Linked DNA regions of Homo sapiens. The protein of the gene in region 2 interacts with the protein of the main gene of each other region in a biochemical or structural test. Each region holds a gene or a part of one and is shown on either strand. Other genes may lie near its edges.

Evidence for each region. The genes of interacting proteins can lie anywhere in the genome.
Region 1: of the proteins of MAPK11 (region 2) and ATF2, one has a biochemical effect on the other in vitro, tested with the Homo sapiens proteins (4 studies listed by BioGRID and IntAct).
Region 3: of the proteins of MAPK11 (region 2) and MAPT, one has a biochemical effect on the other in vitro, tested with the Homo sapiens proteins (2 studies listed by BioGRID).

What each region holds. Positions count from the first base shown.
Region 1 is NC_000002.12:175,165,203-175,172,027, forward strand, and holds the start of ATF2 (cyclic AMP-dependent transcription factor ATF-2), read right to left. Parts: upstream 3,002-6,825; 5' UTR 2,848-3,001; intron 2,508-2,847; exon of another isoform or gene 2,431-2,507; intron 1-2,430. UniProt on the Homo sapiens protein: Transcriptional activator which regulates the transcription of various genes, including those involved in anti-apoptosis, cell growth, and DNA damage response.
Region 2 is NC_000022.11:50,267,378-50,274,720, reverse strand, and holds the start of MAPK11 (mitogen-activated protein kinase 11), read left to right. Parts: upstream 1-4,340; 5' UTR 4,341-4,428; coding exon 4,429-4,544; intron 4,545-6,771; coding exon 6,772-6,901; intron 6,902-7,093; coding exon 7,094-7,152; intron 7,153-7,238; coding exon 7,239-7,343. UniProt on the Homo sapiens protein: Serine/threonine kinase which acts as an essential component of the MAP kinase signal transduction pathway.
Region 3 is NC_000017.11:45,981,531-45,988,554, reverse strand, and holds part of MAPT (microtubule-associated protein tau), read right to left. Parts: intron 5,690-7,024; coding exon 4,625-5,689; intron 1,516-4,624; coding exon 1,460-1,515; intron 1-1,459. UniProt on the Homo sapiens protein: Promotes microtubule assembly and stability, and might be involved in the establishment and maintenance of neuronal polarity.

The DNA of each region.
Region 1 (6,825 bases), on a different chromosome or scaffold from region 2:
TCAGTTGAATATTAATTATTGCTATTCACTGAATTTTTAACGAGAGGTTCTGATGAAAATCTGGTTTTCATAAGGGAGACTTCAACTACTTTATATTCTCCAATGACATTTTAGTAAGAATAAAAAAGAGAAAGAAATGCCTACTTATAGGTATATTTCATATTGGAAGGAAGAGCCTTTAGACAAAATTAGTAGAAAAAGCACACATTGGTGAGATTGTTTACCTGATCTAACACGATCTAACAATTTACCAGACAAGAACGTATGTATCATTAAAACCGAAGTTTTCCAAAATACAAAAATTTGGGTAGAAAAAATGTACATTATTTTTTGAAGAGTTAATGCTACTTACAGATAGATGTTTGATGTATGGCATATTTTTCTACCATAGTCATAGAGCTTTCAGATCCTGAATACCAATAAAGACCACCCCAACCCCACTATTTGTTAAAATGCTGACAACCATTTCTACTATTTATTTATTTGAGACGGAGTCTCGCTGTGTCGCCCAGGTTGGAGTGCAGTGGCGCCATCTCGGCTCACTGCAACCTCCGCCTCCCAGGTTCAACAGATTCTCCGCCTCAGCCTCTCGAGTAGGTGGGACTACAGGAGCCAACACACCCAGCTAATTTTTGGTATTTTTAGTAGAGACGGGGTTTCACCGTGTTAGCTAGGATGGTCTCGATCTCCTCACCTCATGATCCGCCCCACTCGGCCTCACGAAGTGCTGGCATTACAGGCATGAGCCACCGCGCACGCCCAGCCTCTACTATTATCTTAGCTTAAAAACAAAAAACGCCAAAGAAAAAAGTGCAGGAATTCCTGGGTTACATATTTAACTAATAAAAATACAGTGCCCCAAATACGAAATAAACATTCGGATAAGATATTTTAAAAAGGATTTTCAGGAAATGCACCCGGAGCTATAGAAGGTATTATGTACACTACACATACAAAAAAAAGTCCCTGAAAGCTCCTTCCTGACAATTAAAATACATAACAACTAAGTTCTAAATTTCCACGATATTACATTTTAAATCAGTTCTTAAAACTTAATGGCAGTAGCATTCTCTCAAAGCAAGATTAAACGTCTTAGGAAGGCAACATACACATCATGGTAAATTTGGAAGATTCTCAGAAACTCTTTTACACATCACGGTAAATTTGGAAGATTCCTAGAAATTATTTTACAAAGACGAGGATTCTTAACTATTACGCAACTACTGATGGCCTTAAAGATCCATGAACTTTCTTAATCTGCAGAGGGGAATCTGTATATTTAAAACGTATTTTACAAGGATGTTCCTAACATTTTTGAAACAAAGTTTTTACGGTGGATTCCTCAAGTAAGGAAAAAAAAATTAATACATGATAAAACTGCTTCTGTGTTTGTACTTTAAGACACTTAAACCTGTAGGTTTGACTTTTTAACAAGCTTTTATAAATAAAGCTTTACCTTCATAATTTTGATTCAAGAGACCAAAGCTATATGGCTATTTAAAGATCAGAACGGCTGTTACTCACAATGATAACGCCAGTGGTCATGTTTCTTCAAATAGGACAAAAAGTGTGCTCAAAGAAAGTCAGTTTTTGTTCTGATTTTAAATGTATATCTTAAATGCATGCATTGTGACCGTCTCCATAATTTAAAACCTCTAAGAAATTTAAACTTTCACATTATAATTTAGGGATTAGTCAATCCCTTAGTACCAGTTAAATAATAGCCAGGAAAGCATTAGAAAACCTGAAGGTACATGTAAAGAAATGCTTTACATCACTATTTAAAATAGGTGTTGAATTTTAAGAGAAACATTTCTTTCACTAAAATTTCTGATGCCTAAGGTCCATCAGGAGTAATCTCTTTTACTCCATGATATTCACAGTAGTTTTGCTCTTGGCCTCACCAGTTTTAAGACTCTCCATTAAAGAAAGCCAATTTTATACTACCTAGGGGCACAAAAATAGTTCCCAGCTCCTCCTCTCTTTTTCCTCCTAGGTTCGGTTAAACGAGCGAACATAGAAAACACGTACACACACTCCCTTTCGGCCCTGGTCCCTAGGGCATTGATGAAAAGCAAATTATTTCTTTACATACGCTCTGCTGTCCACCCAGAGATTTAAAAAAAAAAAAATAAGGGAAAATACCAGAATCAGTCTGCACCCACACCTAAGCCCCGCCCCACCGGGAAAAAGCTGGGGGTAGCGGGATTGTGAGGGTGGCGGAAAGGACGGAAAAGGCCGAGACTTCCAGCTCCTAGGTTCTCCACACCATTCTTTCCTTCAAGCTGCACCGCAGCCAGGGACCCTGATTCTATTTTCAGCCGCGCCTCCCGATCCTCCTCCCCGCCACCATCACCAATACACGGTCCTCAATCGCTTGAATACTGGGTGGGGAGACCAGAGTGGGCCCTCTCCCCGCCCAACCCAAGGACTGTGGGTGGGAGAGGTCTCCCTGCGCACACGGCTGACTCGACGCGCGCCCCGAGGACCTCTGAACTGACCCAAGTAGGGTGAAGATAATTCGGAGGGAGGGGTCTAAGAGGGAGCCGTTATTCCTTTTTCCTCTGCCTTAGGAAAGCGCGCGAGAGGGAGGGGCCGGAACAACGAACGCTGGTTACCTAACGGTCCGGCCCAGCCAGTCAGGTTCCCAAAGCCCACACCGCGCGGGCCGCCGAGGTGGCAGCACAGCCACAATCGCCCCAAGGGCTAAGGAGCACGTCAGGAGCACCCGAGGTGATGGGAAACGGGGGGTGGGGACTGTGCTGAGCGACGTCGCCATGTTAGCGCCTTCTTTCTCCGTATCCCTACAGTCTCCAGCCCTGCTGACCTCTGCCCATCGTTACTCACCTTTCCAGGTCACTAGTTCATGATCCTTTCGGTCACCCGCGAGCCCTGAGCACAGCCGTGTTTACAAAGCACCCCTGGAGGAAAAGGCTGAACGGCACTTTAAAGGCCACGGGCTCCCACAGGCTTCCGTCCTCTCTCGCGAGATCGGACTGACAACCCCCGCCCGCTCGCCCCGCTCCCGGCATCCCCACCTTCCTTCTGGCGCCCCTCCCCTTCACCCACACGCCCCTTCTTGCCTTCCTTCTGAGGGAGCGCCTCCGAGTCAGGTGATTCCGTCAGGCTTAAGGAGAAGAAGGCGGGTCTTCGGCAGGGCGGGTAGAGGGGACGGGCATCAAAGAGCACTCGGGCGCTCATGATTGGACAAGGAGCCCGAAGGGCGGGAAGCAGTTCTGGAGGGGGCGGGACCAGAGGGCCCAAGGAGCGTTACTTCTGTAAACCCGGAGCTGTGGAAGACTGTGATTGGCTGTCGGCTGGAGGAGGGCGCGGGTGCAGGCGGCGGTGAAGGGCTAGGCAGGGCTTTGGCGGTGTGAGGGGAGGAAAGGTGGTGAGCTCCGGAAAGGCTGCTAGAGGGAAAGCAGGATGGGTCCTCCGAGCCCAGCCCCAGGAGCCGGGTGTCTCCGTTTCCGTCACTTCCCAGCACTAGGTAGGGAGGTGGGTAAAAGTAGGCTGCGTTCCTCAGCCCACCCCTTGGCTCCCCGGGAGCCTGAGGCGGGGAGCTTCGGGTTAGGTGAGGTTTGGGGGAGGCGGAGTTTGCTGGTAATTGCCCATCCCTCCCCTCCAAAAAACCCCACACAACTTAAAGATTTTAATATTAACTGTAAGGATGTTGGTTATTCAATAAATAGGCACAAGTTGAAAAGTATGATCAGAGGCCTCTGTGAGAATTTACATTATTCAATAAAAGATTTTCAGTGTCTTATTTTTTCCATTTATTAAATACTGATTTCTAGTCTGGAACAAAATTATGAACTAGTTTATATATTAACATAAAATACACTCTCAAAATTGTTGAAAGGTTTTGGGGGATAGTATGAGAGTTAATGAGCCTGAAGTTCAAGAATGATATCTGGCATAAAAGTGAAATTGTAATGGCATTGACATTTTAACAGGTAGGTCTCTGGACCGCATACATGTGTATAAGCCAACTCAGTCCTCTTTTAAAACTAATTTTAGTTAAGAAACATTAAGCCAAATTATTAACACTTTCCTACTTAAAATGAAAGTACCGTCCCCATATAGTAACAGTAATGTAGTAGTGCCATTGTAGTGTAACACTAATTATGTCAGCAAAACCTCACAGTTCAGATTACTCATGATGGAAATGGTGGACAAAATGTTTGATTGACATCACAATTGTTAGGTCTAGAACGCATTGATTAAATAGATGCTTCTCTCTCCATCTCCCAAAACAACTAATGTGAGAAAAAGAACTGCAAATGTTACGACATTTCAAAAGAAGTTTGGGTCAATTAGAATAGATTTTTTTAAAAAAATTGTTTTTCCATTTGAAATTTTTTCCAGTGTTGATTCAATTGGGCAGTAGCTTTGGTTTTAAATTTCTCATTGCTACTTCTCCAGTCTGTTGTCAAGCAGTTAGTTATCTACATGATGCATTCGAGAAACACATTATTTTAAAGAAAGTCTTTCAGTTCTTTTTAGACAAGAGAAGAACTGTTTAGTGATATGAACAGTACTCTGATCTGTTTTGATAATTCAGTTTTAGCTAATTTTCTAAAGAGAGGGTATACCTAAAGTGAGAAAAAAAAATAAGATAGGCGCAGGAAACAGGTGGAAACTATGCCGATCTGTTATATATGCATTTTGGCAGCCCGGCATTTAACAAAGGGTCTCACTTTATCCACATATTTCTAGTTCCACAGCAGTTTGTTTACTATAGTTTTTCTACAAGTGGGGAAAACATTCAGCATTGTCAAAATGAATGTAGTTACCATATTCAGGTCTGATTCCATGAACTTGTCTCACTACTTATTCATATCCTCATAAAATGCCACCCTTTTCCATCTTTGTTCTCACTTTTGCATTCCTCAATATCCCCAAGAGTCCTAAAATTCTTTACAGTCTTCTCTTTACAAACGCAGGAAACTTCTTGTAGACCTCTTCTTTGCCTGTCTTGTTCCATGATGCATCTACCCAACTTAGTTCTAAGAGAATTAGTGAGGGTCTAGTGAATCTCCTTTAAGAACCCAGCATAACTGCTAAATAAAACTAATATTCCTTAGATACAAAATGAGGCTATTTGAAGAAAATGCATTTCTGTCATGAAAATGTTAATAAATATCACAAGAAACAATGATGGTCTCTAAGTGCCCTCAAAATCTTACAAATGCCACACAATGTGGTATTTCCACCTTAGTATGATAGGGCTGCTAATCCATAATCTGTTAAAACTGCTCACAAAAATTCTAAAACGTGTGTGTGTGTGTGTGTGTATGTATGTATGTATATATATGTGTATATATGTGTGTGTGTGTGTGTGTGTGTGTATATATATATCTGTTCTCACGCTGCTAATAAAGATATACCCGAGACTGGGTAATTTATAAAGGAAAGAGGTTTAATTGATTCACAGTTCAGCATGGCTGGGGAGGCTTCAGGAAACTCACAATCATGGCGGAAGGGGAAGCAAACATGTCCTTCTTCACATGAATGAGTGCCCAGCAAAAGGAGAAGCCCATTATAAAACCATCAGATCTCTGAGAACTAACTCACTATCATGAGAACAGGATGGGGAAACCACCCCAATGATTCAATTATCTCCACCTGGTCCCTCCCATGACATGTGGGGATTATGGGAACTACACTTCAAGATGAGATTTGGGGTGGGGACACAGCCAAACCATATCTCTCTCCATCTTCCCTTTCAACTTCCTCTCCTTCTCTCTCTCACTAATAATTGATTTTCAGAACATAGTTTCTGTTTGTCTGCAGCTAACCAAAACATAGAAGACTACAGGGCACCCCTTATGTCTACTTGGTACAACTAATCCTAGGCTTAGGGAAAGAGCCTCTACATTTTCATGATATTCTCAGGATGCAGCCCAGTACAGTGGATTAGCTGGGATTTTATCAGTGGGATCAAGGTAGGGGTGTGTGTGGTGTGTGTGTGTGTGTGTGAGATGTGAAAGGGGTGGGAGACGCAGGACATGATTACCCCACTGATATCTGAGAAATGAAATAGGATAATGTGGCCCTAGACGTTGTACAGACATTTTGGTAGCTTCTATCTCATGGCAGATCTTTTCCTCTCTCTGCCAGCTCAGGGTCTTCCTGCACATTGCTGAAATGGCCTATGTTAAAGTTACCTCTCAGCACTTGTCCTCATCATGGACATTTTAAGTGCAGGGATGTCTACCCTCCAACCCAAATCTTGGGTTTCCCAAAAGAATTTATAATTAATGGGGTGTGGCATTATGGGGAAAAAGGGCTATGTTTATCTTCACATCATACCAGTTAGCTTATACTACCTTCAACAAAACCAGCCCAGAGAGAGGGAGAATGGAATTTAAGGGCCTTGTTTTCATTCTTGATGCTAATGCCACCTCTCTCTCTCATCTGACTCACCAGAAAGAGGGATTGCCATCATTATATTCTTTTTATACAATATTATTAATAAAAATAGGATCACTCCTACCTTTCATAGCTTCCCATAACTAGTCTATTTGTCAACCTGAGGCCCACGTAACACCAAAGCCATGTGATCTGTATCCTAGAAATCAAGGGAGGTCTGTCAGCATATGGATCCTCCTGGGTCCTTAGACTACCATCCTGCTCGTTTCAGTTACCTTCTTACCTTGGATACAGCCTCATAGGTCAACTATGGCCAATGAGGTCAAGCATCAACCTAATGCTCTCCTTACTCATAAAGCATCTATATTAATTGAGCATGAACATTCCAGGCACTGTTTCTGGCTCTGAGGTGACAACTATAAATAAGACAAAGTTTTTTCAGGAGACTCT
Region 2 (7,343 bases):
AAGGGGCTGGGAGGGGTACTGGGGGAGGTGGAGGGGGCTGGGAGGGGTGCTGGGGGGAGGTGGAGGGGGCTGGGAGAGGTGCTGAGGGGAGGTGGGGGGGGTGGGAGGTGGGACTGCTTCTGGTGCCATCTGGTGGCTTCTTTCGTGCAACACATTCTTACCAAATGCCCGCTGCACACCACGCATGCACTGTCCTGAGCGCTAGGAACAGCAGCAACCAGGACGGGCAGGGCTCAGAGCCTCCCCTGTGTGCCAAGAATACAGACAGCCCAGGCAGAGGGCATTCGGTGCTCCAGACACAAAGTGAAGGCCCAGCTTCAAATGTGGCTGGATCCAGGCACACATCCTGAGGTTCTGCTGGTCTGGACTGCTAACCCACTCACGAGGATCCATTCTCAGGCAGCCCCAGCCTGTCTCCCCACCTGGGCACGTCATGGCTGGGGTCTCTTGATGGGCAAGGCCTCCATTGATCGAGTCCCCTTTGGACTGGGGCAGCTCTGTAGGGACCAGCCCCACAGGGTCAGTGGGTCTCTCCGTGTGCGGCGACGAGAGAGTGTAGAAATAAAGACAGAAGACAAAGAGATAAGAGAAAAGGCAGCTGGGCCCAGGAGACCACTACTACCAATGCATGGAGACCGGTAGTGGCCCCGAATGTCGGGCTGCGCTGTTATTTATTGGATACAAGGCAGAAGGGGCAGGGTAAAGAATGTGAGTCATCTCCAATGATAGGTAAGGTCACGTGGGTCATGTGTCCACTGGACAGGAGTCCCTTCCCTGCCTGGCAGCCGAGGCAGAGAGAGAGAGGAGACAGAGAGAAAGACAGCTTACGCCATTATTTCTGCATATCAGGGACTATTAGTATTGTCACTAATTTACTACTGCTATCTAGAAGGCAGAGCCAGGTGTACAGGATGGAACATGAAAGTGGACTAGGAGTGTGACCGCTGAAGCACAGCATCACAGGGAGACGTTTAGGCCTCTGGATAACTGCGGGCAAGCCTGACTGATGTCAGGCCCTCCACAAGAGGTGGAGGAGCAGAGTCTTCTCTAAACTCCCCTGGGGAAAGGGAGACCCCCCCCCCTCTTTCCCGGTCTGCTAAGTAGTGGGTGTTGTTCCTTGACACCTTTTGCTACGGCTGGACCACGGCCCGCCTGGTAACGGGCGTCTTCCCAGACGCTGGCGTCACCGCTAGACCAAGGAACCCTCTGGTGGCCCTGTCCGGGCATAACAGAAGGCTCCCACTCTTGTCTTCTGGTCACACCTCACTATGTCCCCTCAGCTCCTATCTCTGTATGGCCTGGTTTTTCCTAGGCTATGATTATTGAGCAAGGATTATTATAATATTGGAATAAAAAGTAATTGCTACAAACTAATGATTAATGATATTCATATATAATCATATCTAAGATCTATATCTGGTATAACTATTCTTGTTTTATATTTTATTATACTGCAACAGCTCGTGTCCTCTCTCTTGCCTCGGTGCCTGGGTGGCTTGCCGCCCACACAGCTCCATTCAAGCCACGATGAAAAACGGGTGGCCATCTCTCCCCCACAAGAGAAAGGGGTACAAGGCCAACTGACATCCCCTGCTCCAAGGATCCCTGAAATGACATTGGGTTCCCCCCTTACCCAGAGACATGGCTGGTCAGGAGATCAGAGCAAGGGGGTGGACCGAAGGCTTAAGTGCTGAGCGGGAGGTCTCAAGTAGGGAGCTGGGAACCTGGAGGCCTGGCTTCCGTACTAGACCCCTGCAGTCCACCTCTTCCCTGTCCCACTGGGCAGTCAGGAAAGAAGGGAAGGGTCAGTGAGACCCCACACACATGAAACTTGGGGCTGGGGAGAGGCTGCAGGCCCAGCAGTCCAGCATCTGGGTGGGGGCAGGCACCGGGTAGAAGCTGGGCATAGCTGCTGGGGTGCATGCGGTGGGCTGGAGTGGTCAGCTGGCGACAGACGAGGGGTGGCCTGTCCTTCCTGGTGCTTTCCAAGTCCCATTTTCCTCCCAGAGTGGTGGGAGGAGAGGTGGCGGGTAGCTTAACAGCCCAAGGCTACATCCTGCTTGCTTCTTACAGGCAGGACAAGTCCCCTGCTAAATCAGCTCCGCGACCACCATCGCCTGGTCTCCCGGTGAGCAAGGCCAGATTTGCCTTTTAGGAAGTTCACTGACTGCAGGAAGAGGCCAGCTGGGAGGGACCAGCAGGACCAGAGAGGAGCTGTCACAGTGACAGCTCCAGTGAGGAGGGGTGGCCAGGACCAGCGGGGGTGGGGTGGGGGCATGAGCACGGAGAAGGGGTGGCCTGCTGTATTCAGGGGCCACAGCGAATCAGCTGGGTAGGAGAGGCGCCTCTGGCCCAGGGCTTCTCACTCCTGCCCTGCCACCGGCCCTTCCTGGCTCCCCTGCCGCTTCCCCTCTGGGCCTGGGACTGTCCTCCACCGGCGGCTCCCTCCAGGGGGGCTTCCCTTGCCCCCGCCGAGCTCTGAAGGTGCCTCTCCTGGAAGATGGCCTCCAGGCCCTGACGCCACCCGAAACTCCTCAGTGATCACTCCCTTGCAGTGCCACGACCCCACACTGTCCCCAGTAGGCACATGGGCGGGACCTCTAATGCCTGGGCAGGCAGGGGGTTCCCGGGGCAGGTCAGCTCAGTGATGAGAGGGGCCCGTTTCCACCGCCCCCCGCCCCCACCCCCACCCCACACGCCCGCCTGACCTGCTGAGCGGCCGGGGCCTGCAGCGAGGCCGCGAGGATTGCGGGCGGACGCCTGGGGGAAGCCTGACACCTCCCCACCTCCATGTCCCCCACCCTAGGGGCGAGAACGGAGCCGCCCAGTCCACGGGGAGGCGCAGGGGCGGGGCCGGTCGCCATGGGAACCCGACTCCCGCCCCGCCCGGCCGCGGCGCAGACAAAGGCCGCTCCCCTCCCCCGGCGGCCGCGGCCGCGGTTCCCACAGCTCCGGGGCTGCGCTCCGGCCTCCTCCTCCTTTAGCTGAAGCTCCATTAACTCTGCACAAAACCTCGGCCCGCCTCGGCCGGGCCCAGTGAAAGGCGCTCCCGGGCGGGGGCCCTCGGGGAGGCTGCCCGTGTCCTCGCCCCAACCCAGCCCGAGCGAGGAGAGGGGCCATCCCCGGGCCCGCGCCAGGCCCCCAGCCGGATGCCGGCTTCCAATGGGGAAACTGAGGCACGGGGCTTGGTCATGCAAAAGGGGCCGGAGCGGCTGGGACTGAGACCCGTTCCTTCGCCGCGGTCCGCATGGGTCCGGTGGCCAGCACCGTGCTGGCTGTTTTAATTTGGTTGCCGATATATAAAAATCAGATTTGACATTAAAACTCGGATTTTAGTGTTTTAAAAAAGGAGTGTTTTGGGCCACTGGGATCCTGATTTCTCACTTCGCTGGAGGGGGTCGCCCAGCCGCGAAGCCTCCCACCACGGCTCTACCAGGGCGGAGGTCGGTGGCCGGTGTTCCAGGGAGCAATGCTCCGCCGAGCCCCGGTCGCTTTCAAGTGGGAATAAAAGTAGCTGTGCGGCCCCGAGCGCGGCAGAGACGCCGAGTGGGGCGCTGCCCCCGTCACCGCCAAGGCAGCCCCCCGCGCCTGCCCGCCCGCGGGGCTGACTTCAAGGACCCTGCACCCAAAGGCGGCTCCTCGGACCTGGGATAGTCAGGGTGGGCTTCCTAGAAGAGGTGGCCGCTAAGGAGGAGGAAAGGTTCTGGGCAGCAAAAAGGATCCGTTTGGGGCCGCTGCTTGTGGGTAGGAAGGCCCCGGGGTGACGCCGCTGTCCCTGGTCCTGACAGTCCAGCGGTCGCGCCTCTCTCAGAGGGGAGGTCAGGGCGAGCCGGGGCAGGAGGCCTGGAAGGTTCCCGGGGCGCACCGCGGACCAAGGCCTGCAGGTCCTGCGCAAGAAAGCCAGGCCGGCCCTGTCCCAACGCCTTTCGGCTTATTTTCCTATCCAGTGCCGAGTCTTTAGAAGGTGCTATTCATATTTCTGTCTTGAAAAATACTTCCCATGGTTTACCCCTGGCTTCTTCGCTTTTGACGGTTCTCCCTCGTTGGGGAGGGCGCCGCCGGGGTAGGGAAGCCCGGGCCGAGCCCAGACGCGGGCGCAAGTCTGGAGAAGCGCGCGGCCCCCAAGAGGTGAGAGCCGGAGGGAGGTGTCCGCCCTCGGCGCCCCCCCCGGGAAGGGGAGGGCTGGTTTCCGCTCTGCCACCGCCTCCGAGGCGCAGGAAGCAGCGCATTTGTCTCCGGGAACCCCCCCACGCCCCGGCCACCCAGCCCGGGAAATCCGCCCGGGCCTCCCGGCCCCGCCCCGGAGCCCCGCCCCGCCCGCCGCCGCCGCCGCCTCCGCCGCCCTCCGCTCCGCTCGGCTCGGGCTCGGCTCGGGCGCGGGCGCGGGGCGCGGGGCTGGGCCCGGGCGGAGCGGCGGCTGCTCCGGACATGTCGGGCCCTCGCGCCGGCTTCTACCGGCAGGAGCTGAACAAGACCGTGTGGGAGGTGCCGCAGCGGCTGCAGGGGCTGCGCCCGGTGGGCTCCGGCGCCTACGGCTCCGTCTGGTAGGGGCGGGGCAGAAGGGGTGCTGGGTGGGGGCCGGGCCGGGCCGGAGAGCGCGTCCCCTCCTCGCCCGCGCGAGGTTCTCGGCGTGGGGAGGGGCCTCGCCCTGCCTCCGCCCCCGGGCGCCAAGCGGATCTGAGGAATGAATGGGGGGGCGGGGGTGGCGGCGTAAAGAAACTTTCCAAGCAGACGCCGTTACCGGGAGGGAGGGGGGTCCTCCGGCCTCTCCCGATTCGGACTGCTCCCCACCAGGCCTGAGGCCTGGGAGGTCACAGCTGGCGTGAGGGTGGGTCTCACGCGACCGAGCCCCGAGCCACCCTGATGTCCGGGCCCCTAAACGTCTGAGCACCCACCTGAGATTCACTGAGTCGGGTCAGGCAGCCCCCCGGGGTCTAGCGGATGACCCTCCCCCGCCCGGGCTGGGGGCTATTGTCTGAAAAGGGAAGCCCCGCTCCCGGAAGCCAAGATCTCTCCCCCTGGGATGGCCTCAGACTCCCCCTCAGACCACAAACCCCACTTAGGCCCTGGGGCCAGAGGACCTGGCCTGGGGCCCAGGAAGACGACAGAGTCTGGGTGGGGGAGGGGGGTCAACTGGGCCAAGGTCTCTGTTAGACCCGGGTAGCCAGGGCTGGAGGGGCTTAGGGTGAGGTAGTTACCGGGAGTCCTAAGTTTCAGCCTCCATGTTGACTGGGAGGCTGATCATGGGTACAGGCTTTGAGAGGTGCAGCTGAGTCCTCACCATGGCCAATGCCGCTTAGCTGCTGCCCACTGGGGGGTCCTGGTGGGGCGCAAAGGCAGAGGCAGCCAGGGCAGAGCTCTGCCCCAGGCACTTGCAGGTTGGAAGTGGGACCTCTAGGCCCACCAGATTTGGAGCTCAGGAGCCGGCATCAGGGGCCGGGGGTCCCAGGGCAGGCTGTCTTCTGGTGTGGTCCCTAGCCTTCCATCAGAAGCTGTAGGTGGGTCATTCTAGCCATCATGCCAGCACAGATCTGTCTTCCTCTTTGAGACCTGAAGGGCAGGAAGAGGGTCTGGGACGGTGTGGGAGTGGCCATAGGGGACTAGGGTGGGTCATGGCTGGACTCGCCGTCTGGGAGTTGCTGAGAGGTGTCCGGTTCTCTGAGTGAGGCCTGGTCTCCCCCCTTGCACCCCTGGCCCATTTTCTTAGTTCCACTGCCAAGGCTGCGGGCCAGGTGCCAATTCCCTGTCACCTGACCGCACAGATGCAATTGGCCAAAAGAACTTGCTGCCCCACGTGCAGGGCCACTCCCCTCACCACCTCAGGAGCACCTTTCCCTGGTCATAGGCTGGGAGCATGGCTGCCCCAGGCACCTCGACCTGCGCCCATGAGCATCCCAGACCCAGCAGGAGCCGCTCCTGCTCCCCTTGTGTGGGCATGGGGGGTGGCCTCAGCCTCCACTTGCTCTGAGACAGGATCCCAAGAGACAGAAGTGGGAGGGAGAGAAGAAGCAAGTATCAGCCAGAGGGAACAGGCTGTGCAAAGGCCTTTCCTTTAGCAGGGCTGAGGGCAGTGGGACATGGGAGGGTGGGATGAGGGTCACCTGCAAAGGGAGGGTGGGCTCAGGAAGCTGGTGCAGGGTAGAGGGTCTGGACCTCTGGGAAGTGGGGCTGGGCGAAGGGCTGTTCTGTGGGTCCAGCTGACGCCCTCAGCTGTACATCACCTTCTGTCCCGGTTTTGTTCCAAATAATGATGCAATAAACACCTCTGACCAACTTTCCCTCCGTATTTTGAACATTCGGAGGCACCAGGGGTCCAGGGGCTTTGAGGTGGCTCTAGAATCCCCCTCTGTGAGCCTCCTGGGCCCATGGGGTCTATGGGGCAGAGGGAGGCCCGTCTGCTGCAGGTGAATGCCAGTGACTGTTTTCCTGCTGTGTTTTTCCACGCTGGATGGGGCACCTCTCCCCCAGCCTTGCTTTGAATGGGGGCCCCTGGTTGAGCGTGGGAATCAGTGGGGCCAGGGGACAGAGAAGGTCCAGGACCTTGTGGGGTGAACACACGCATGGTGGTCCAGCCCCAGGGGCTCCTTCCCAGCAAGCGCGGAGTGGGTAGGCCCGAGGGTGGGAGGCCGAGCTGGGGCGGCGGGGCCGGGGCAGAAAAGCCCCACGGCCCCATCCCCACGGAGAAGCGGCGAGAGGGACGCCGCCCGGGTCCACGCGCGTGCGGCCGCCCTCGGACCCCTCCCGGCGCCGCCTCACTCGCCCGCCTTCCAGTTCGGCCTACGACGCCCGGCTGCGCCAGAAGGTGGCGGTGAAGAAGCTGTCGCGCCCCTTCCAGTCGCTGATCCACGCGCGCAGAACGTACCGGGAGCTGCGGCTGCTCAAGCACCTGAAGCACGAGAACGTGAGCCGGGGGAGGGCCGTGGGGGGAGGGCGCGTGCGGGGGCGGGGCCGCGGCGCAGCCAATAGGCGGGCGAGCCCTGGCGATGGGGGCGGGGACACAGGGGGCGCGGCCTGGCACTGGGGGCGTGGCCCGGGGGGAGCTGAACGACAGCCGGGGGTTCGTCGCCCGGCCCTGACGCCCCCCGCCACCTAGGTCATCGGGCTTCTGGACGTCTTCACGCCGGCCACGTCCATCGAGGACTTCAGCGAAGTGTGAGCGGCGGGGCGGGCGAGGCAGCGGGGAGCGCGTTCGCGGTGGGGCGGTGGGGCCCTGTCCTGACCCCCTGACCCCGCCCCAGGTACTTGGTGACCACCCTGATGGGCGCCGACCTGAACAACATCGTCAAGTGCCAGGCGCTGAGCGACGAGCACGTTCAATTCCTGGTTTACCAGCTGCTGCGCGG
Region 3 (7,024 bases), on a different chromosome or scaffold from region 2:
CAGGGACGGGTGTCTGCACGCCTGTCCCTATGGAGGCGGGGCTGGGGGGGGCCCTGGAACCAGGATGCAGGATAGATGGTGACTGACACCCACAGTTCGTCCTGCCCGTGGGGGATTTTGACGGGTGGGCATGGCCCTGGAGGAGAAGGGGGTGTTTGGAGGGGAACAGGTCACACTCTCGGGAAACAAAGTGGGGAGGCTAAGCCTCGAAGTGTTTCCAAGAGCAAGTCAGAGCTCAGAGAAGGGTCCTGTCCCAGACTTCACTGGGCTTCTAGGGGATGCTATCTTATTGCTTTCCAATTCCCCATGGAAGCGGCCAAGGCCCTCTGTGTGGTCAGGCTTGGTAAGGAGGACCCAGGAGATGAAGTAGCAATGGGAGAGGAGGGACACAGGCTGGGGCCCTGGGGCTGATGACAAGAAAGCAAAGCTGGGGTGGGGGTATTGACGACTCCTCCTTCCCTCGCTGCACACGGCCCCTCTCCACCAGCAGCACTCCCCAGCTGGCCGAGGCCCAGGGTAATAGATCTTTCCCCTCCCTAGACTCTGGGCAACTCCAGGGCAGGGATGTTGTACCCATGTGTACTGAATGAATGAATGAAGGAAGGAACAAATGAATGCATGCATGCATGAGGCTGGTATTCCCTGCCCCCTGCCCCCAGCACTAAATGTGCACCGTGATTGACAAGCAGCTGTCACTATCACTTCAGAGACCCAGGCCAGCTCTCCAAATCCCCACAGGCCCTTCCACTGCCTCACTAGATGAGGCTGGGGAGCCCTGACTCTGCAGGCACTTCCGGGAGCAGCCCTCAACACACCACTGAATGCTCAGAGCTATGTGGCAACTGGAGATGCCCTCCGGGCTCCAGTACTGATTAAAATTCAGGTGTTTCAGACAGAATTTATGCTGGAAATTTTAGATACCTTTAAGAAAAATAGGTCTTATCTAGAGCCATGGTGGGATTTTCCAGGAAAAACGCCACTGTGCAATTACGGGAGCATTTCCCCAGACATTTCCCCAGTCATTGAGACAGTAAACAATGGGTGAAGTGAAATACTGAGAAGGATGGGCGAAGATCTGGGTGCAGTTTATGCAGTGAGAAGATGGCTTCATTTACTGTCCTAGGGCTGGTTTTCAAACACACCTTCATTTACTGTCCTGGGTTTGGTTTTCAAACACACCTTCATTTACTGTCAGGGTCTCACTGAAAGTACACTAAGAAAGCTGGAATTAGGAGCATGACTTCATGAACCTGCCAACTGCTCTTCCCTGGGGTAAGTATCAAAACTAATAAATGCTGGACTTTTTAAAAGCCTGCCCCAAAATACAAAGCACTTTAAATGACAGCTGTACTTTAGTGACAAATACTCCCCACATTATATATGAGAATGAATCAGACATAAAGCACAGCTTCTCTGTAAACTTGACCAGCTGCAGAGCTCCGTGGCATCGTCAGCTTACCTTGGCTTTTTTGTCATCGCTTCCAGTCCCGTCTTTGCTTTTACTGACCATGCGAGCTGATAAAATATAAAATAAGAATGCTTGTCACACTCCATTTTCACTGTTCACAGAAAGCCAGCTGTGGTGAAGCTGGATTTCTCTGGGATAGGTCCATGTTTGTTTAGTTGGGTCTGGTGGAAACCCAGTTGGTTCTCTTTTCCCTTGAATCTGCTAGGCCTCGCATTGTTAGTATCAACACAGCACACTGGGGTCACTGATTAGCGCAACCTGGCAAGAGGGGGCAGCAGGCTGGCCGAGGGTGGGACCATGCAGAGGGGACGCAGCAGAAACTGTCACGGGGACATGATGGCATGGAGGCTATCTAAGGAAGGTGCAGTCTCCCTAACCCACAGGCTCCTGCCCTGTTTCTGCCAGGGTCAGCCTCACCCCACTGGGACCAGCCCCACTCCATGGATGGGTGTTTTAAAAGCCTCAGGGCCATGGATGTTGGTAGCTCAGTGAGGACCCAGCCTCCTGCAAGATCCAAGGATGGGGGTGGGTGCATTGTCTCCACACTGCAGCCAGGCTTGGCCCTGATTCCCTGTGAGGTGCCTGCTCACCCTCTTGGCCTTGGAAACTGCCTGGAACCACCCGGCTCCCCTGCCCATGTGGCTAGATTGCCAGCAGTCCTGATTTCCACCTTCCTGGCCATCTTATGCTGACCAACCCATCTCCATTTCTGGTCACACGCCTCCAGAATAGGAGAGGCTGGCAGGGTTGTCTTTGTCCCCTAGTTGCTGGTTGTACCCCCAGGGCCTGCCCCTCACTAATGGTGGCTTTGGCCACCAGCCCCAGCTGCTCTGAGACGAGCCAAGCCCAGCCCAGCCCTGAGCCAGGCCTGGTGGGTTTCTTGCCACTTACTGGTCTTCAAAGGGCACGAATTCTCACTGCTTCCCCAAATTAGCTACAAACCAGTTACCATCATACATTCCCACAGACAACATCAGCCTTCATCACACTCCTTGGTGAAACCAACCCGCTGACCTGTCAGCCAGCATCAGCGCTAACTCACCCTTCTCCTTCTCTTGACAGTCACTGCTGAAAACTGATCATAGATTTTCTTCTTTGGTTTCAATATCACATTCCCTCTACCCCATGGACAACTGGGTCTCTTGGAGCTTCTCATTGGCTATTGTCACCTGGATTTCTAGAGGGACCAGCAATGAGTATGCCCAGAGGTTTTCCAACTATACTATGTGGCAGAATCACCTGCTAAAAGACTCCCAGGCTTACCCCACAACTGGGTCTGTAAGCCTAAAGTGGCACCTGGGAACCTGCACTTTAGTAAGAGCCCCAGGCGGATCTGACTCACGTGTTCTTTGTTTTGCCCACATCAACCAGCACCATCCACGGCACAACAAAAGAATCTGCTAAATCGGCATTTCCCAAACTTCCTCCAGGAAATGTTAGCAGGTAGAATCAAGTAAGTTTGGGAAACCCACTCTGTGACCTTCTCAGAGGGTCACAATGGCCATTAGTACATTAAAGGCTCTGACAAGTCCTGCAGCAGAAAAGCCTGTTTAACTTACTTTAGTCTTTTATTTTTTTCCCCCAGTCACTGGGCCATGGAACTCTTTTTTAATCCAAACACACCTATGAACCTCTAGTAGGCCAGTATTCAAGAAAACATCATTTCAGGAAATATTGTAGTAACCTGTCAAGTCAGTTATTTGTCCCCTACTGTTTTGGAATTTAACAAAGGATATAGGATATATTTTTTTCTCTCTTAACTTTATTTTATTTTATTTTTTGAGACAGAGTCTCACTCTGTCGCCCAGGCTTAGGGTACAGTGGTGTGATCTTGGCTCACTGTAACCTCTGCCTCCTGGGTTCAAGCACTTATCCTGCTTCAGCCTCCCCAGTAGCTGGGACTACAGGTGCCCGCCACCACGCCCAGCTAATTTTTTGTAATTTTAGTAGAGACAGGGTCTCACCATGTTGGCCAGGCTGGTCTCGAACTCCTAACCTCAAATGATCCACCTGCCTTGGCCTCCCAAAGTGCTGAGATTACAGGCGTGAGCCATCGCCCCCAGCCTCTGTCTTAACTTTTAAACACAGGCTTCTTTATAGCATTTCAAAGTTTTCCCTAAAAGTAAAATCTAATAAAAATTTAACAGATGCTTGCAACTGTGAGCTTCAGTAACATCCATTTCTGGGCTCTGCAAATAACTGTGAAATGCTAAGGGTCCCAAATTTATGAACAAGCTCGCCTTGTGGCTCTGAGGTCTCCTGTGGGACACCAACTCTCCTCTCCCTGATACTTGGGACTCTCCTCCCACCAATCCCTCCCTGCAGGGCTGCTGTGGTCGTGCTCCTGAGGGCTCAAGGTGGGCCCTGCTCAACCCCCTCCAATGCCAGCATGAGGATCCCCTTGTCCTCTGCAGAGGGAGGTGGTGGCATGTGGACCAGGGAGATCTTGTGTCTGCTCCTTGTCTTCCTGCCACAAGGCAGAGTGGGTGGGGGCAGGGCACTGGGCCAAAGGCACAGCATGAGCTCTGGGCCACCTCTGGATGCTGTGTGTGTCACCTGCTGTGTGTGCCCTGCACATCTCTGTGTTAGGCGTCCACACTCCAGCACCTCCTGGGAGGCGTTGTGGGATGCAGGACAGGCGTGTCTTTCAGAGACAACCTACCTGGATCCCAAACCTGGCTCTGTCACTTACTACTCATTGGCCTTCGGCAAGTTACTGTACTTCTCTGAGCCTCCGTTTCCTCATCTGCAAAGTGGGGCTGCTTATGCCTACATGGGAGGGTTGGAGAGTTCTAGACACCATGAGGGCACCCGTCATCCTGTCGGTGGAAGGCACCCACCAAACCTCCTGTGGGCTGATGGGCCGTTGTGGACAAATCAAGTGGCCAGAGAGTCAAACAAGGTGGGTAGCACGGAGCGGGGGTGCTGGTGACATGCAGAGTGGCGGGCAAGCGTGAGGGGCGCGTGCGGCCACAGCCTGAGCACGGGAGGAGGCCGAGGGAGTGGAGCAGCTGCACCCAGGTGTCGATTTAGTGGCGTCCTAGGAACGTCAGAAGCAGCAGGAGTCGGGAGGCCTGGAAGCTCAGTGGCAGTGCCCGCAGCCTGGGAGGCCTGGGAGGTCCCCAGGGAAGGAGCGAAGAAGCTCAAGACACAGACCTTTGAGTTGAGGGACCCGGCTGACGGGCTTCCCCCGCGGAGCAGCAGCAGGCTGCTTTTCAGAGGGCTCTGGAAGGTCAGCCTCTTTTGTGTCCTCTCCCAAAGAGGGGCCCCGGGCCTCTGGCCCCTCTCCAGGGGCCCCTGGAAATGCAGCCCTTCCCAAATGCTCCTCCGAGTGCGCCTGCTCCTTCTGCACGTTGGGTGTGATTTCCACGTGAAACGTGAACTCCAGGGGGGCATCCTGCCCTTTGGCCCGCCCTACACTGGGCCCGTCGGGCTCTGAGGCTGGGATCTCTGTGGAAACTTTGGAGAGGAAATCCACAGGGAGGGGGATGGCACCCTCCGCTGGGAAGCCTGGGATGCTGGTGGCTTCTCTGGCGGCTGTCTGGGGAGGCCGCCCATCTTGGGCTGGGGAGGCCTTGGAGGGAGGGGAGTCTTGGGGGGAGGACTCATCGACGTCGCGGTCTTCATCCACCTCCTCCTTGCTCCCCGGCCTCTCTTTGCCCCCTGCCCCCTTCAGCGGCGGCCCCTCCTGGTGCAGGTCTCCTAGAAGCTGGTGCTTGAGCAGCTCAGGGGCGTGGCGGCCGCCCTCTGTGTCCTCAGGTCCTGTCCCCGAAGGTTGGCGTGTGGCCTCTCTGGGGCCCTCAGGCAGGAGGGGAGCCCCAGGCATGCCGGACATGAGCTGGTGGCTCAGACCTGGGGGGCCTGGCTCTCGGAGGAAGCCTTCCTGGACCACCTTACCACTTTCAGGCTCTGTGTGGAGATACGCAGTGGTGGCGGGCTTCGGAAAGGCCGGACCCTTCTCGGCCCAGTCCCCGCCTTTTTGTCCCCACTCCAGGGAGGGCTCCTGAGGGCCTCCTGTTGGAGGAGGCGCTGGGCAAACGGGACGGTGCTGAGGAAGGCTCGCGGTCAGCGGGACGGGAGCTTCTGGCTCTTTCTCCCCGAGGCACGGCCCAGAGACCCCAGAGGCCTCTCCGCAGGGTCCAGGCTGGACGTGGGCGCTAATCTCATTGGCCAGGGGCCTTTCAGGCGCCTTCCTCTGCCGGCCCGGAACTCTCAACTCCTCTGGTTTGAAGAGGCAGCGATAGCAAAAGGTTAGCAAGGGCGCATTAATCGCTTAAGAGAGGGAGCATCATCCTGGACAAAATGACACTGAGAGGGCATCCCAGGCCCCCTAACAAAGAGATGGGAGCACAGCTCTGGGCTCGTCTCGTTGCCTTTGCTTGCTTGGAATGACAGCTCTCCTGGTCTAGCCGCCACCAGCTCGCTAGGTGGCTCTCCCCTCTCTGGGCCTCAGTTTCCTCATCTGTAAAGAGGGTTCTTGGACGTGGTGACCTCCGAGGGCCCTTCTGGTGTGGGTGTTATTCCTCTGCCTATGATGGGCTCTGGTTGGGCACAGAGCATGTCACACATCTGGAGCCGCCCTGGGCTTAATCTACTGGGAAAGCGGGAGGGCTACAGAAGCTTCTCCTGCTTTCTAGGGAATTTGAGCCTCCCAAAGATTCTAGCCTCTAGATGGTATCTGGTTTGGGTGTAGCGAGAATCCCCTTTCCTCTCCCTACCTCTCACTGTTCTCCTGCCCCCGCCCCCCACCCCTTTTTTTTGGTTTGAGACAGAGTCTCACTCTGTCGCCCAGGCTGGAGTACAGTGGCACGATCTCAGCTCACTGCAACCTCTGACTCCCTGGTTCAAGCGATTCTCCTGCCTCAGCCTCCCGAGTAACTGGGATTACAGGCACGTGCCACCACACCTGGCTAATTTTTGTATTTTTAGTAGAAACGGGGTTTCACCATGTTGGCCAGGATAGTCTTGATCTCCTGACCTCGTGATCTGCCCACCCCGGTCCCCAAAGTGCTGGGATTACAGGCATGAGTTTTTTTTTTCCTTTCTTTCTTTCTTTTTTTTTTTTTTTGAGACAGGGTCTCGTTCTGTCACCCAGGCTAGAGTGCAGTGGTGCAATCACAGCTCATTGCAACTTTAACTCCAGGGCTCAAACAACCCTCCCATCTCACCCTCCCAAGCAGCTGGGACCACAGATGCATGCCACCACGTCTGACTAAAATGTTATTTTTCATTTTTGTGGAGACGGGGTCTCCTTATGTTGCTCAGGCTGGTCTCGAACTCCTGGGCTCAAGCAATTCTCTTGCCTCTGGGATTACAGGGATGAGCCACCATACTTGACTTCTGCTCCCCTTTTTGGTAAATGAAACCAGTGAAACTAGTGCCCACAAACCCCGCCTCAAGCCCATTCTCTGACAGATTTGGAAAATCCAAAATGTGTGATCATCAAGAATGGAGTCTTTACTGAGAGACCTGCCATAAGACTCCTCGAAAAAGAAGCCCCATTCAGATCTATCCAGGTCACTGACCACAGACAAGCCCTTGGCACAGGTGAGGTAG